Linked DNA regions of Homo sapiens: region 2 is linked to region 1. The links come from fine-mapping of genetic effects on gene expression. Tissue or cell type: whole blood. Region 1 holds a variant in brackets; the other region holds the start of a gene. All regions are shown on one strand. Distances are from middle to middle.

What was found. PIP is the estimated chance that this variant, and not a neighbour inherited with it, causes the effect.
Region 2: TST starts here. The variant in region 1 is fine-mapped to the expression of TST in whole blood (TOPMed, PIP above 0.99).

What each region holds. Positions count from the first base shown.
Region 1 is chr22:36,965,973-36,974,074 of GRCh38, forward strand. It overlaps LL22NC01-81G9.3 (a long non-coding RNA gene), which reads left to right. Exons shown (of 4, transcript NR_038954.1): 2 at 418-535; 3 at 1,196-1,616; 4 at 2,014-2,200. Among named protein-coding and RNA genes, the nearest start is that of LL22NC01-81G9.3, 4.8 kb to the left of the region's middle. The variant C/T (reference allele first, on the strand shown) is at 3,913.
Region 2 is chr22:37,015,380-37,023,481 of GRCh38, forward strand. TST (thiosulfate sulfurtransferase) reads right to left here and starts at 4,068. Exons shown (of 3, transcript NM_003312.6): 1 at 4,021-4,068; 2 at 2,759-3,374. The coding sequence starts at 3,353. It overlaps MPST (mercaptopyruvate sulfurtransferase), which reads left to right and starts at 4,363. Exons shown (of 3, transcript NM_021126.8): 1 at 4,363-4,493. The coding sequence starts at 4,458. RefSeq lists enhancers at 2,611-3,586, 3,615-4,116 and silencers at 3,590-3,649, 3,810-4,199, 4,230-4,349, 4,360-4,679.

The sequences.
Region 1 (8,102 bases):
AGGGGTTCACAGGGTCACAGTTGTGCCTATACTTCCTTGAACCTCTGTCCTCATCCCTGGGCCCACCCTTGCTTCTGAGAGCTGGGCCACCCTGTGTGGCCTCTGACAACTGAGTTCCTGCCTTCTTCCCCATGCTGGAGTTTGTTCTACAAAGCTCAGATTGGAGACCTTGTTGTTCTTGATTACAACTTACTTCTCTGTTTCCCTACCTCTACAGATGTGGTTTCTAGACAGTTTTCAATTATATTGATGAGTAAAAAATTTTTAAAAACAGAAAGAAAAATACAACTTTATTTTTAAATAAAAAAGAAAATATCATTTACTATCAACATCATTTTCTACTTTAAAAAAAAGACATTTTATTTTATTTTATTTTATTTTATTTTACTTTATTTTATTTTTTGTTTTTTGAGACAGAGTCTCACTCTGTTGCCCAGGCTGGAGTGCAGTGGCATGATCTCAGCTCACCACAACCTCCCCCTCCCAGGTTCAAGCAATTCTCGTGCCTCAGCATCCCGAGTAGCTGGGATTACAGGTGTGTGCCACCACGCGCAGCTAATTTTTGTATTTTTAGTAGAGATAGGGTTTCACCATGTTGGCCAGGCTGGTAAAAAGGGACATTTTAATACAAACGAAGTAATCAAAGAATTCTGATCTCAGCGCGCAGGATGGCCCTTTTCAAACAGAGGCAGCTGGCCATTTTCCTTGCCTTCATTTTCCAGGGTTTTCTCCTCCCATGAATGGGCAGTGAAAGCTTCATCCTGGACCAATCCTGCTCCACGATGGCTTTGGGGACCTGCCTTGCCCCAGTGTTTTGTCTGCAGGCCTGGCAACTTTGACCATGAGAGGCAGACTCCCTCTGACTGGAGGCTGACAAGTGGAAACTATTGGGATTATTCCCAGTGGCCTTACATGGGGGCGGCTCAGCTTGGTGAATTCTCAGGCATGATCCAAATCTGCCTCCCAGGCCCAGAACATCATTCTCTGGGATCCCGGGGCTGCCTGGGCTCTAGGAAGCCATTCTCTGCTGCTCCTGGTGTGCCCCTAGGGCTGGCTGAGGTTGGGAAGGCCTCCCCTCGCTGGAACAGAGGACAAAGTGATTCATCTTGATCCCCGTGAAATGGTTGTGCAACCCCAAGAGCCTGAGATTCATCAAAGAACGTGTCTCTTTATTTCCTGTTCATTACATTGCCAGGCACAATCCAGACAAGACATCCCAGCACTGCTTCCAGACCTCTGCTTGAAGGTGGGATTCTTCAATCTCCTGGACATTCTTAGAGTCTGGCTTTACACCACGTCTCCTTTGCACGATGGCAACACCAGCAGTATCTGCCCATGTGCAAGAGAGCCTCTGCAACAGCCCAATGGAGAAATGGAGGAGTTTCCAGGCCCACGTGACACTGAATCACAATTGTCTTTTACCGCTTGGGATGATGATGCCATCACTTTTCTCTAATTTTTTTTTTTTTTTTTGAGGCAGCCTCACTGTCACCCAGGCTGGAGTGTAGTGGCGTGATCTTGGCTTACTGAAACCTCCACCTCCCGGGTTCAAGTGATTCTCCTGCCTCAGCCTCCTGAGTAGCTGGGATTATGCCTACTATATCTCCAGCCTACAGGTGTGCGCCACCACGCCCAGCTAATTTTTATATTTTCAGTAGAGACAGGGTTTCACCAAGTTGGCCAGGCTGGTCTTGAACTCCTGGCCTCAAGTGATCCGCCTGCCTTGGCCTCCCAAAGTGCTTGGATTACAGGCGTGAGCCACTGTGCTCGGCCACTTTCCTCTGATTTTTAAGTGAAGTATATACATACATACATACACAGCAGGCAAGTGGAATTCCAAGCACAGAGGGCTTTTCAGCATAATTCTGAGAAGGCAACTTTGAGCAAATAACTTGCAGACATTATACAATTCTTTCTTGTTAAAGTCAAGGCAAGCTTTTCTGGGAAGGGGCATGAAGACCTTGACATAGTCTGCTTAGTTTTATTTATTTATTTATTTATTTATTTATTTAGAGACGGAATCTCGTTCTGTCACCCAGGCTGGAGTGCAGTAGCGCGATCTCAGCTCACTGCAACCTCCGCCTCCCCGGTTCCAGGTTCAAGGAATTCTCCAGCCTCAGCCTCCCGAGTAGCTGGGATTACAGGCCATAGTCTGCTTTAAAAATAATAATAATAATAATAAAAGACAACAGTGAAGAAGAAAGAAAGAATGATTCCCTCTTCGCACAAGAAGAAAGTTCTGATGCTTTTGGTATCATGGGGTCTTAGGTTCAATGTGTAGTGAGAGCTAACTAAGACAATTTTTATTTGTTCCTCTGAACACTTCTGTATTCCTATGACTACGTCATGCTTTTCCAGTTGCTATAACTTATGGAGTGTTTTGATATTTGGCATCCTCACTCATTAGTCTTCCTTTTCAACATTTTATTGGACACGATTACGCTATTATTCCTCCAAATTATTGTTAGAATCAATTTATCAAGTCATAAAAATGTCCTCTTAGAATTTTTATTGGAATTGCGCTAAATTTAATTCTTAATTTGGGAAGATCTGACAGTTTTGACAACTTTGTAATACTGGCTCTTTTGATCCAATAATTATGGATTTCCACTTATTTTGGGAATTTTACTTCAGCAAATTTTAAAAGCTTTTTCCTAGGTTCTTATTAGATTCATCTCCAGGATTTTAAGATTTCAGTGCCAGCCTACCTTCTCTCTCTCTCTCTTCCACCTTCCTCCCACCTCTCTCTCTTTCTTTCTTTTCTTTTCCTTCCTTCCTTCTTCCCCTCCTCCTACTCCTCTTCTTCCTTCCTTCCTTTCTTTCTTTTTTTTTCTTTCTTTCTTTCTCTTTCCTTCTTTTTCCTTCCTTCCTTTTTCTTGCTTGCTTGCTTGCTTTCTTCATTTTCCTCTTTTGTGGCCAATATCTTCCCAACCTATCTTATTGCAAATGATTATTATTAGTGCAAAGAAAAGCTACGGATGTTTGTGTAATGAGTTTATACCCAGCTCCTTCTCGAAGTCTTGTTCGTTGAATAATTCTTATTTAAATCTTACATGCTTTCTAGACATACAAGCCTATCTTCTTCAAATTATGAGCTTTGTCTCTTATTTTTAATAGTTATTTTACATATTATTCCTATTCAATCACAATTGCCAGAAAGTTCAAAACTATGTTGACAAATTCCTGGTGTTGCACACACCTGTCTTCAGAGAGATTGCATAGAGAATGCCAAATGCTTCACCATTCGAGAGACTTAGCATCGCTTCCTGAAAAGTCATCTTGATCCTACTAAAAAAATATTCTACTCATGACAGCAGGCATTCACCTCTCAAGGGTCTATGTCCAGGGAAATGTTTCTGCCTCCATCTCCAAGTGGCCATGTGAGGCGTTTTAATAAAATGAGCCTCCGACTAAGACCACACCAGAAGGCTCCTGTGGTTGGGCACCAGTGGCAGGTGACAGAGAGCTCCAACCAAAATGCCCTTAAAGTTCTCCTCAGCTTGGTTTGACTTCAGATGGCTTCTCATTGAGTCTAGGCCCTGACCTCCCTTATTTTAGAGCATCTTCTTTAGAAAATTTGTCATTGAAAATGATTTCTCTGTCCCTTTGAGATGTTGGTAAATCTTTTCAAAAGCCTCTTGCTGGCCAGGCACAGTGGCTCACACCTGTAATTCCAGTACTTCGGGAGGCCGAGGCGGGTGGATCACCTGAGGTCAGGAGTTTGAGATCAGCCTGGCCAACATGGTGAAACCCCGTCTCTACTAAAAACACAAAAATTAGCCGGGCATAGTGGTACATGTCTGTAATCCCAGCTACTCAGGAGGCTGAAGCAGGAGAATTGCTTGAACCCAGGAGGTGAGGCAGAGATTAGCCGTGAGCCAAGATTGCACCACTGCACTCCAGCCTGGGCAA[C/T]AGAGCAAGACTCCGCCTCAAATTAAAAAAAAAAAAAAAAAAGAAGAAGTTCAAGGCTACAGTAAGCTGTGATCACACCACTGCTCTCCAGCCTGAGTAACACAGCAAATCCCTGTCACTAAAAAATAAAAAGGGAAAAAGAAAAATAAATAAAAAGAATTGTTTTACACTTAGATTTCAAGATTTAAAAAGCTGTCAAATACCATATATTCAAAAATTCTGGTATCGTAAAAAGAGAACAGTAGAGATCTCTTAATGCTGCAATTATCCACTGAGGTTTCACAGTTTATGAATATCATGCTTTTTTGTAGAAATCTGCTAAGCTTACTGTTGAATCATTTATGTACACTGACTAATTTTTGAGCCATCATCAATTTTCATGAATTATGTAATTTAGCCTCAGCAATGTATCACATGCATTTGAAATAATTAAACTTTTCAAAGAGACTTAATACATGCAACAATGAGTAAATTAACGCTTTTATTAACATCAGCAGAGTTCTTTTTTTTTTTTTTTTTTCTGGGAGACAGGAGTTTAAGTTCAGGTAAAGCGACACTCTTGGCTTTGAGGCTTTTCTCTAGCTTTAAACTCTAGCCTGCAACTGTTTCTGATTAGCAGCTAGGTGACCTTCGTTGTACAAAGAGGCATCATCCTCTTGATCTTGGGTTTTCTTTCTAAAGGGCCTTGTGTGTTTTCATCCCACATTTTAAGATATAATAGCTGCATTGAACGAATTGGGGGATATTCCTTCCATCTTTATCTTTCCATTGGTATTATTTAAATAACATGAGGATTATCTGTTACTTAAAAAGTAATCTGCCTTGTAAGAACTTAACATCTTAAATGAGCTTAAAAACAAAAGAGCTTGCCTGTTAAACTGTCTAGGCCTGATGCATTTATAAGTGATTATTAAATACACTTCTCCACTTTTTCTATAATTATTCTATTCTTTAGTATTTTACCATTTAAAAGGAGACTTCTTGCTTTCTGAAAACACTCTTTCTTTTTCTACATGTCTGCTGGCATTCACCTCTCAAGGTTCTGTGTCCCAGGCAAATGCCACTCCAAGATGCCAGGCCTGTCTCTGCCTTCAGTCAACTTCCACGTGGGTTTCCAAAGCTTAGTATTAAATTGGGTATCAGGTTAAAATAAACATCAGAAACATTCTCATCTTTTTTCTTTCTCACTAGCATTTCTACTTCCTTTTGTTTTGTTTGTTTGTTTGTTTGTTTGTTTAAGAAATAGGGTATTGCTCTGTCACCCAGGCTGGAGTACAAAAGCATGATCATGGCTCACTGCAGCCTTGACCTCCCGGGCTCGAGCAATCCTCCCATCTCAGCCTCCTGGGTAGTTGATACTACAGGTACACGTCACCAAGCCTGACTATTTATTTGTTTTTTGGGGGGTTTTCTTTGTTGTAGAGACAGAGTCTCACTATGTTGCCTAGGTTGGTCTTGAACTCCTGGGTTCAAGCGATCTGCCTACCTTGGCCTCCCAAAGTGCTGGATTACAGGCGTGAGCCAACGTGCTCAGCCTCTATTTCCCGTTGAACTGGTTTTGGTAAGATATTTTACAGGCTAACTGTGTATTTCATCTAGCAGCCAGCAAGCGTTTGCACATCGTTATAAATTATGTCTTGTTATAAACTTGTTCTAACAACAATTCACTCTGAGCAGGCATTCCGCATGCTCATTACATAATATTTTTGTCTCTGTGCAGCTGCACATCTGCACCGTAGTGTAGCTCCCTGTCCCCGGGTGACCGATTGGAACTAGGTTTCTCCATCCCCAATAGGCCTCACTGTGTCTCATCACACCAAAGTATTTTTAAAAAGGCTTAATGAAGACAGCATCCTCTGTATCATCCCCCGGGAAGGCTGAGCAGGTTGCGCACCATAAATACACTTCAACGTTCCTATCTGCCTAAGCCTTGAATCCCCTCCTCTATGATATAGCAAGGTAAATGCCTGCATCCTGACTGCATTTAATGGACCACGGGCCCTGGGTTGGGGTTGCAGCACCCAGTGAGCTATGAGAGCAGCCCCCAGCTGCTCCGTCTGACAGATTGAAGCCAGGCTCTCCAGCCAGCGCTTCCAGCTTCATCAGTTCTGTTTGTTCAACGTTATGTTCCTTCTGCCCTGGTCTCGCAGCCTGAAATTCATTCCTTCACGTATTCCTCAGGATTCTGACATTATAAATTGGCAAAGGTCTTGCAATTGTTTGAATGCCTCCTCCCAGATCAGCTTTGGTCGTCATTACCCGAGGGTCTGCCAGGATGTTATGGTTCTGAAAATAATAAAAGGTGGGAGTAAAATCAACAGTCCCTTCAGGGCAGCAGCCTCAGGTGAGTTAATTAAAGTCTTGAGGCAAAAGAAGATTGATCTCCAGTAGGGAAAAGAGCTGCTATTGATGACTAGGGAGATGAAGTCTGGGGTTCAAGGTATTCAGATTTATCAAAATCTGCCCAAATTTCCACTTCTAATTCTTAGAGTCTCTCTCCTTCCCAATTAATCCCTTGTTACAGAAGAGATCTAGCAAGGTCATGAATTAAATTTGTATTTTATTTTACTTGGAGTTTGGTTTTTAGAAATCCTGGCCCTGCCTGTAATCCCAGCACTTTGGGAGATCACGGTGAGAGGATCACTTGAGCCTAGGAGCTCAAGACCAGCCTGGGCAACACAGGGAGACCCTCATCTCTACAAAAAATTTTTCAGATTAGCCAGGTTTGGTGGTGCGCACCTGGAGATCCCAGCCACTTGGGAAGCTGAGATGGAAGGATCGTTTGAGCCTGGGAGGTAAAGGCTGCAGTGAGCTGTGATCACGCCACTATACTCCAAAAAAAAAGAGAGAGAGACTGAGAGAGAGAGATAGAGAAAAGAAATCTTGGCCCTGTGACCATAAGAAATAAGGAGTTCTTTCAGAGTAATCTAATAATTCTCTGGTGGTCTATCTCTGCCTTCAGCTGGAAATTTACAGTCCTAAATTTGTCTCTTTATTTTTCCTCCACTTTTTCCAGTATGGTCAGAAAAATCCCGCCGGTTCTACAAGAAGAATCTAATATAAGAATCTTATATTGCAATAGCTACTTGATGTCCCAAGGCCTTGCTTGCCATAGGCAGTTGACCCCAGGCAATTACAGATGCTAATTTAGGTAACTGATTTGTCAAAGCATGTCATGAACGGCTAGTGTCTCACTTTCTACTGGCAATGAAGTCACTGTGGCCTTCAAATCTAAAAAGATGAAAAGAACAATTCCAGATTCCTATATTCAAATATTTGGTCTCCAAAAACCCCTTTTAAAACCAAAACAACTGTGGAAAGAGCATGCAGAGCAAAAGCCAGAGAAGCCGCCAGTGGGTGGGAGAAGCTGCCACTAATGGGCAAGGATGGCTTTCAAGAGCTCCCAAGGGAGGGGCTGGGCATCTCACTTGCCCCACACTTGGCTACTGGCACCTTCAGAAGACAGTGTCCTCTCCTTCTCTCCTGTCTTCTAGATCTTTCTCTAGAGCCTCTCACTGGGGAACAAAGCTAGAACCACACAAGGGGCTTCTGGGAAGTCTCTGCCATCCAGAGGAAACCTTCAAAGGGAATGGTGGTGACAGGGGATTGACACGGACAATCCTGTATATCGAGATGGTTTCTCTTATAGCTGTTCTGCTTTGAAGACTCCAACAGACCTACACCCTCTGAATGCTAACAGTAGTCTTAAAAGTGTCATGGAAGGCCGGGCACGGTGGCTCACGCCTGTAATCCCAGCACTTTGGGAGGCCGAGGCTGGTAGATCACCTGAGGTCAGGAGTTCGAGACCAGCCTGGCCAACATGTTGAACCCCCGTCTCTACTAAGACTACAAAAAATTAGCCGGGGGTGGTGGCAGGTGGCTGTAATCTCAGGTACTCAGGAGGCTGAGGCAGAAGAATCGCTTGAACCTGGGAGGTGGAGGTTGCAGCGAGCCGAGATCGTGCCACTGCACTCCAGCCTGGCAACAGAGCAAGACTCTGTCTCAAAAAAAAAAAGTGTCATGGAAGGACTTTGGCTCTTCCCCACAATGGCCACTTGGACCCTGGACTAGGGCAGACAGCAACGAAAACCGAAGAAGGAATGGAAAGAGGATAAAAAATAATATATTTTTATTTTTATTTTATTTATTTATGTATTTATTTTTGAGATGAAGTCTTGCTATGTCACCTA
Region 2 (8,102 bases), 49 kb after region 1:
GATAAACTCCTACTCTGCCTCTCTCACTTCCTCCAGCCCTCCTCTCAGGTGAGCAGCGCTCCTTTCACGAACAACAGTTAGCGGTGAAGGCACTAGCCTGAGGCTAAGCATCAGTATCACACCTGGATGGAACCTCAGATCTGGCTGACTCCAGGACTAAGAGCTTGTGGAGGCACAAAACTACAGCCAAAGAGGAAGGCGCTTGCCTAAGGTGAGCAGGAAGTGGCCGCCAGGTGTCTAAGCTCTGCTTCTCGCTCCATTTAGGGTCATTCCTTCCAGAGATGATCAGGGCCAATGCCTGACCCCCAGGTCTGCCACCCCCATGCCCCTGTGTGTTACATCTGGACCGCTGAACCTACAGGGTGCCTCCCTGATCCCACACCACGCTGGGAACCATAAACTTGGCAGAGCCTCATGTGCCTTTGTGTCCCCAAAATATCTTGTATGGGAGGCCAGCAAAGCCTCTTGGAGGAGGGGGTTGGGGGGGAAGTGCCACACCCTCCAGGATTTGTATCGTTCCTTACCCTTCTTGAAATCCCTTTCCAGCCACTGCTACTTTTTTTTTTTTTTTTTTTTTTTTTTGAGACAGAGTCTTGTTCTGTTGCCCAGGCTGGAGTGCAGTGGCGCGATCTTGGCTCACTGCAACCTCCACCTCCCGGGTTCAAGCGATTCTCCTGCCTCAGCCTCCCAAGTAGCTAGGATTACAGGCACGTACCACCAACGCCTGGCTAATTTTTTTTTCATTTTAGTAGCGACGGGGTTTCACCATGTTGGTCAGGCTGGTCTCGAACTCCCGAGCTCATGATCCGCCCACCTTGGTCTCCCAAGGTGCTGGGATTACAGGCGTGAGCCACCACGCCCGGCCGCCACTGCTACATTTAAACAAATGCATACTCATGTGGGTAGGGCTGGCGTGACTCTTCTCATTTTATGATAAGGAAACCCAGAGAGGCCAAGCAACTGGACTGAGGTCACTCCAAGGAGGAGTGGCTGAGCTGAAATGAGAATCCATGTTCCCTGATGCTCCTGAGGGAAACTGAAGGAGGTGTGAACACAATTACAGAGGAGGAACTTCAGCATCCCGGGCCTTCAGGAGGCATTACCCACTGCAGGCCATTCTCCTCCTCTGAGCCTCAGTTTCCTCATCTGTAAAATGGGTGAGGACATTGGGCCTGGCACCTCCAAGCTGTCCCTTCCACTTATTTCTTAGGTTGCTTCAGGGCAGGCTGGGAAGCAGCAAGAGAACCAATTCCACTGATCCTCCCCCATGACAGCTTAAATCCCAAGGAGAAGAGGCGTCTTGAACCAAGGCCAGGAGAGGGCTGCAGGCGTTCCCAGCCAGGATTCTCTGGGAGGTGCCAAATGAACTTGAATCTTCAACTCCAGACCTTCAGAGAGCAAGCAGGCAAGAAAAATATGGGGCCTGGAAAAAGCTGCGCTGGAAAGGGCAGAGACCCTGCTGTCCTGGCTCTGTCACTAACTAGCTATGCGGCCTTGGCCCCTGCCTCTGTGCACCTCAGTCTCCCCTCTGTCAGGTGAGGTCACCGTTCAGGCCCTCCAGCTCTAAGAGTGTGCAGAACAGTTTTCCCAGCATTCTCTCTGTAGGAGGTACAGACAGGAAGAGATGTTTTTCAACAAGTCAGGCAAAATGTTGCACACGAGTTAGATTCTGTAGAGAAGGAGCTCTGACTGAGGAAAGAGCCACCAAGGAGGTGCCCAGAGACAAGAGAGGGCCCTGCTCCTGGAAATGGCCAGGCAGGGACTGGAGGGCACTCAGCAGGAGTGATGGCAGCGAGACGGCAGTCCTGCCTCTAGAAAAGGGAAGACCTCCGAGGTTCTGTCTGGCTAGGAGGTTCTAGAACTCAGCATTTCCTCTCCTGAGGCTCTCCCCAACCCTCAAGCAGTATCCAATCCACCTGGCCTTCCCTTCCACAGGAGGGGAACTTCTGAGTCGCCTTCCTGGGGCAACTAGCAGAGGGGACTCCCTCCTGGCCCTGGGAAGTAGGGGTAGGGCAGCATTGGGTGCGTCCTGGTTTATAGCCCTGGTTTGAAACAAGGCAGCATTGGATTCGAATCCTGCCTTCCACCACTTTATGTCCTGGCATCTCAGTCCCCCCACCCCCCGCTGCCAAAACAGGGGCATTGAGCTTTGTTCGCTGAGATAATGCGGTGCCAAGTGTCTGGCATGAAATGGCAGCTGCTGTTACAACTCTGCCGACGGGCTGCAGCTGCCTGGAAAGGTTATGGAACCTTTGCAAACAGCAGGCAGGGGCCCCAGGAGAGCTAGATTTGGGGAGAGGGGGATCCTGCGGGGAGGGACACTGTTGATGTCTATAAGGGTTTCTGCGGGACGAGAGAGGCCTGGAGAAGCTGGATGTGTCCGTGGGAGGTTTCTGTACAGCAATGCAAACGCTGGCTCAGGGGCATGACACCCTTAGGTATATCCTAGTACATGTGGGGCAGCTGGTGCCTGGGAGTGGAGGTGGTGGACATGTCACCAGTGACTTCTGCTCACACAGATGCTAGGTGGCTTCTTAGCACATGGCTATGAGGACACATTCTTGGGTCCTTGTGCATCCAAGCTGAAAAAGCCTTTAGGTTTGTCTCCACTTTCTGGTTTTATCGATGGAAAGACTGAGGCCTACATGGGAGGATTGAAGGCATGGGACGGACCCTGGAGAGGGTCCCAGTCATCCTTACTCCCTATCCTTCCATGGGGCAATACTCCCCAGGGACCACCCAGCACTGGGACACCTACCTACTGCATCCGGCTCCGGCTCGGTGCCCAGGAACCGCCCTTGAGACCTTGAATCCACCAGCTGGAACCTCTTAGATTCAAGGTTCTCCAGCACCTGCTCGTAGGTCTTGAGCAGGGAGCGGTCCAGTGTGGCTTTGAAGACGGCCGGTTCTGGGCGTGAGGGCTCGGATGTCACCGGGTGGCCCTCCTTCAGCCAGTTCCGGAAGCCACCATTGAGCACTGATACGGTGCGGTGGCCAAACACACGGAACATCCACCAGACCCGGGGAGCATAGAAGCTGCCCAGGTGTTCACCATCATACACCACCACGTGCGTGTGGTTGCTGATGCCCAGGCGGCCCACATACTCGGCGAAGCCAGCCTCGCTGGGCAGCATCATCTCGTAGGGCGACGCCGTGTCCCGGCACTCTTCTATGTCAAAGAAAGAGGCGCCGGGTACGTGGCGCTCGAGGTACTCCTTGCGGGCCTCTCGGGTGCCTGGTGAGTACCAGGACGCGTCCAGCACCCGCAGGCCGGGCCCCAGCTTGCCAGTCCTGATGGACTCCGCCAGCCACTTGGTGGAGACCAGCGCCCGGTAGAGCACCTGATGAACCATGGCTTCAGCTCTGCGTGTCACCTGGCACGGGTGGGAACCAGGAAAGAGAGACAGGCGTGAGGAAGGAAGTCGGTGTGTGCAGTAGGGTGAGGCCTGGGAGAAGCTCTTTCTCCCTCCGCACTCCCCCGGGTTCCTTGTTTACAGCAAGCCAGCGAGGCTGGGGCGTGCAGCGGGATAAGTTTGCAGATTCCCTCTGGAAAGCCGGCCCCGCCCCTCCCAGCCGGCCCGGGGGCCCAGCGCAGAAGCGGGTGGGGCAAGAGTTTCCGAGGACTCCAAGTAGGGGCGCTTCCTGGGGCGGGGATCTGGCTCCTAGAAGTTACAGTACTCGATCCCGCCAGGAAAGAGCAATGAAAGCATGCCCGGGATGGGGGGCGATGGCATCTTGGGCTTAGAATCCCCTTTCCTTCCAAGGCAGAGGGGGTGGGCGCACGGCTAGGAAGCTCCGCGAGCCGCGCACACGCCATCGCCTGCGGCCTCCCCAGGCAGCCCGAGCTCGCCCGCCTCCAGAGTGCCCGAGTCCGGCCCGTAGCTCGCTGCCCTCTGCCCTAGGTGGATCAGGGGTTCCCGGGGCACCCCGTCCCACTCTCGCAACGCTATCCTTCCCCGGGCAGCAGGTGGCCCGACCGGCGGCCCAGGCGCCCGGCCGCTGCCCCCGCCCCGCACTCACTCGCCCCGGACGCCGCGCTGGCGCTCGCCCCGGCCGGCTGGAGAAGTTGGCCGGTTCAAACCCCCGGCCGCAGCTCCCCAGGCGGCGCGCACCATCGCGCCACCGCCAGAGGGGGACCCTGCGCCGCCCGCCGCCATCCCGCGCCTCCCCCGCGCGGCCGCTTCGCGCCCGGCACCTGCCAACCTCGCGCGCGGGGCCTCCGGGACCCGCGGGGGTCTGAGGGGGACGCCGGGTGGCGCGGGGGCCGCGCGGGCCTGGGCTGGGCGGAGCGGGCGTACCCCCACGGCCCGGCCAGTGGAAGGCGCGGGCAGCAGCGGCTCCGAGTGGCCGCGGCGGTGGGCTGTGCCGGAGTCTCCTCCCTTTGGTCCGCTGCAGGTTGGTGGCGGGAGGAGGGGACAGCTGCGGGCGCGGGGAGGGGGCGCCGCGCCGCGGGGGCCATGGCGGAGCCAGGAAGCCGGGAGTCCGAGACCCGGGTAACTGCCGCGGCGTGGCGGCTTGCCTTTCTGGAGGGGGAGGGAGTGGCTCTTTGGGGGTGCTCGGCGCGGGGCTCCCGCGCGGGACCTGGGCGGAAGAGGGGGCTTAGTCTAGGAGAGAAGGCGCGCCGCTACGTTGGCACTAAGGGTGACTGTCCGCTTGGGGCGGCCTGCCGGGTGGGGTCGTGGCGAGTGGCGGGTGGGGAGCCTTGGGTGGAAGTGGGTGACCTGGTGGCACCAGAGAGGGCGGGGGAGAGAGAGGAGGACAGGGAGACGAGACCCCGCTGACCCAGAGGCCCCAGGAAGAGACACTAGCCAATAACTTGTTAGTGAGTGAAAGGAACTAACATTGTCCAGCCCTGCTTGGTGTGGCACTTTGCTGGGTACTCCCGTGGTGTGACTTAATTCCCACAATAACCCTGAGGAGTAGGCCAGAAACTTACTAAGACAGGAGAGAGCGGCAGAGCGAGTTGCTGGAGGACACACCCAGAGTTGAGGCCGGGCCTGATCCCTGGTCTGAAGCCCACGTGGTACCAGCTGCCTTTGTTTACCTGGCTCTTCCCTGAAGGTTCATGCTTTTTAAAAAATTGCCTGTTTTGAACTTAGCCCGTTTAATCATAAGTTGATGTAATTCAATTTTTAATAATAGCTGTATTTAACAACCAGTTGGCAAAATTCCTGAAAAGCTCGCCATGGGCTCTTGCAAACTGGGGGACACCATTGCCCCTCCCTAGCTTTTGCAGAGGCCAGCCTGGAAGCTTTCCCTGTTTCCCAACCCTGACCTTTTGTTTTGTTTTGTTTTTTGAGACAGGCTGTGGTTCTGTGGCCCAGACTGGAGTGCAGTGGCGCCATCTCAGCTCACTGCAACCTCCGCCTCCCAGGCTCAAGCGATCCTCCCACCTTAGCCTCCCAAGTAGGTGGGACCACAGGCATGTGCCACCATTCCCGGCTAATTTTTAAATTTTTGGTAGAGATGGGGTTTCACCATGTTGTCCAGGCTGGTCTTGAACTCCTGGGCTCAAGTGATCTGCCCATCTCAGCCTCCCAAAGTGCTGAGATTACAGGCATGAGCCACCATCCCTGGCCTCATCCCTCTTTTTAAAAAAAGGTTTTGTTCTAAAATGCTCACAGCAATCCTCAAAGCCTAGTGTCTGGTGGTTGGGGGAGGGGGTGGGCAGGAGGGACCAGGCTGGGGAGGTCCAAGAGGAGCTCCCAAGCTCTGCTCCTCAAGGGGTACCCTGGATCCAGCCTGCGGCTCACGCTTGCTTCAGTGCAGCTGTGTATCCTTCTGACATGAGCCTGGGGCGGTTACGTCCTGGGGTCCTCCACTCCCAGGGCACCCTCACCTACAGTGATCCCGGCTTCTGAATCACACAGGCACCTGGTTTCTACCCCTCCCTGACACCCACAGCCTGCCTTCACACCCTCCTTTATGGCCCACAGACCTTTGTGAGAAGTGCCAATCAAGCAGGGAGACTGGGGCAGGGTGACCTCAGATCTCTGAAGTCCCACCAAGCCCTGAAATTCTAAGATTTTAGATTTGCTGCTGGCAGTTCCAGGGCCACCAATGAGAGTAATGGAAGAAATAATGCAATATTATTATTATTATTATTATTTTGAGATGGAGTCTCACTCTGTTGCCCAGGCTGGAGTGCAGTGGCGCGATCTCGGCTCACTGTAACCTCTGCCTCCCAGGTTCAAGCGATTCTCCTGCCTCAGCCTCCCGGGTAGCTGGGACTACAGGCTCATGCCACCATGCCCAGCTAATTTTTGTATTTTTAGTAGAGATGAGGTTTCACCATGTTAGTCAGGCTGGTCTTGAACTCTTGACCTCGTTATCCGCCCGCCTTGGCCTCCCGAAGTGCTGGGATTGCAGGTGTGAGCCACCACGCCCGACCTAAACCGTTTTTAATGATTATTAAAACCAGCCAGATGTAATGCATGGTGGTTGCCCCTCTACATTTATTGTTTAATCTTGGCTCTAAGAGGTGGAGGTGAGAAGCTCCATTATAAGGAACAGAAACCACCCAGAGACCCTACACACCCACATCACACAACCAGTTAAGCAGTGGAGTGGGGTTTACATTGATTTGGGGGGCTCTCTGGCTCCTAAACCAGGGCTCTTTCTACTGTAAATGGATGATTGGGTGAGGGAAACAAGGATCCTCAAGAATAGGGGACAGTGTTTGGGGGTGCACAGGGGCTGCTGTGGTTCCCACAATAGGGTTCCTCAGGAAGGAACCTGCAGCATCTGCCAGCACAGCGCCCCCTAGCTGTGCTGTAACGCAGATAATGGGGATCACCCCTTAGCCAAACACCCCTTGGCAGCCTCCCTACCCTAAAGACCGTGCTGAGGCTTCCTGGGCCCCTGGAAAAGTCAGATTAGTCTGGACTTCCTCCTACTCCAGGAAGCCTTCCCACCTCTTCTGCTGCCACCCCAGGCAAACATAGGGGCCCTCTGTGCTCAACACTGAATTCTAAACTATCCTCAATTTCACTCTCTCTTGCCTGCAGCCTGACGTTTCCCCCCAGGGCTTGGCAAAGGCAAGAGTGCCTCGGTGTCCGGCACAAGGCCTGACCGCATGGGTGAAGTAGGTTCCTAAAAGCCAGCTGCGGCCAGACTGTGGGGGTGGGCACAGGGTGTCACCCTAGAACTCATTAGGCCCTGGTCATCATGGCACCTGGGGCAGGGGAAGTCCAGCCTGAGGGGTCAAATTCTGGCTGCAAATCCTGAGGCTGCCTCCTGTGACCACGGGCAAGGCACTTATTCTTCTAATTGCCAGTGGCCTCATTCATAAAGCAGGCGTCCTAATACCCGCCCAAGGCTGCGGTGCCTAGCATGTGACCTGGCCCACAGAGGCACTCGGTCCACAGATGTTGTTCTCTACCTGCCCCCTTCATTTCGCTGGCAGGACTGCATGCAGTGGGTGTCAAGGTTGGGCCTCACACAGGGGATAAGTGAGGGCTGATCTGCAGCCCATACTCCACACACCCAGCCATGTGCCCTGGTGGGGGCTCAGCCTCTGCCTGGCAGAAGGGGCCCTTTCCTCTCACCTGCACAACGGTGGCTTCCCAGCACAAAGGGCTTAAAGTGTTTGGGAAGTTTACACCCAGGAAGGCTGTGGGCTGGCCTGGCATAGTGGGCTGGCGAGCTGGTGCACTGTCTCTGGTATGCAGGAAAGATAGAGAGGAGAGGGAGGGAGGTGCGAAGTCACTGTTGCTGCTGCTAGAAGGGCCAGAGAGAGCCCAGGCTGGACAGGCAAAACCTGGCCTCGCCAGACTCCTGGAGCCTGCACAGAGTGTGTGTCTGAGAAGTCCGGATTCTGGTGCCAGACTGACTGCCTAGTGAGAAGCCTGGCACCGCCGGGTCAGGCTAGTGCACTTTTTCTTGTTTGTTTTTTGTTTTTGAGACAGAGTTTTGCTCTTGTTCCCCAGGCTGGATTGCAATGGCACGATCTCGGCTCACTGCAACCTCCGCCTCCTGGGTTCAAGCAGTTCTCCTGCCTCAGCCTCCCGAGTAGCTGGGATTACAGGTGCCCTCCACTAAGCCCGGCTAATTTTTTGTATTTTTGGTAGAGACGGGGTTTCACCATGTTGGCCAGACTGGTT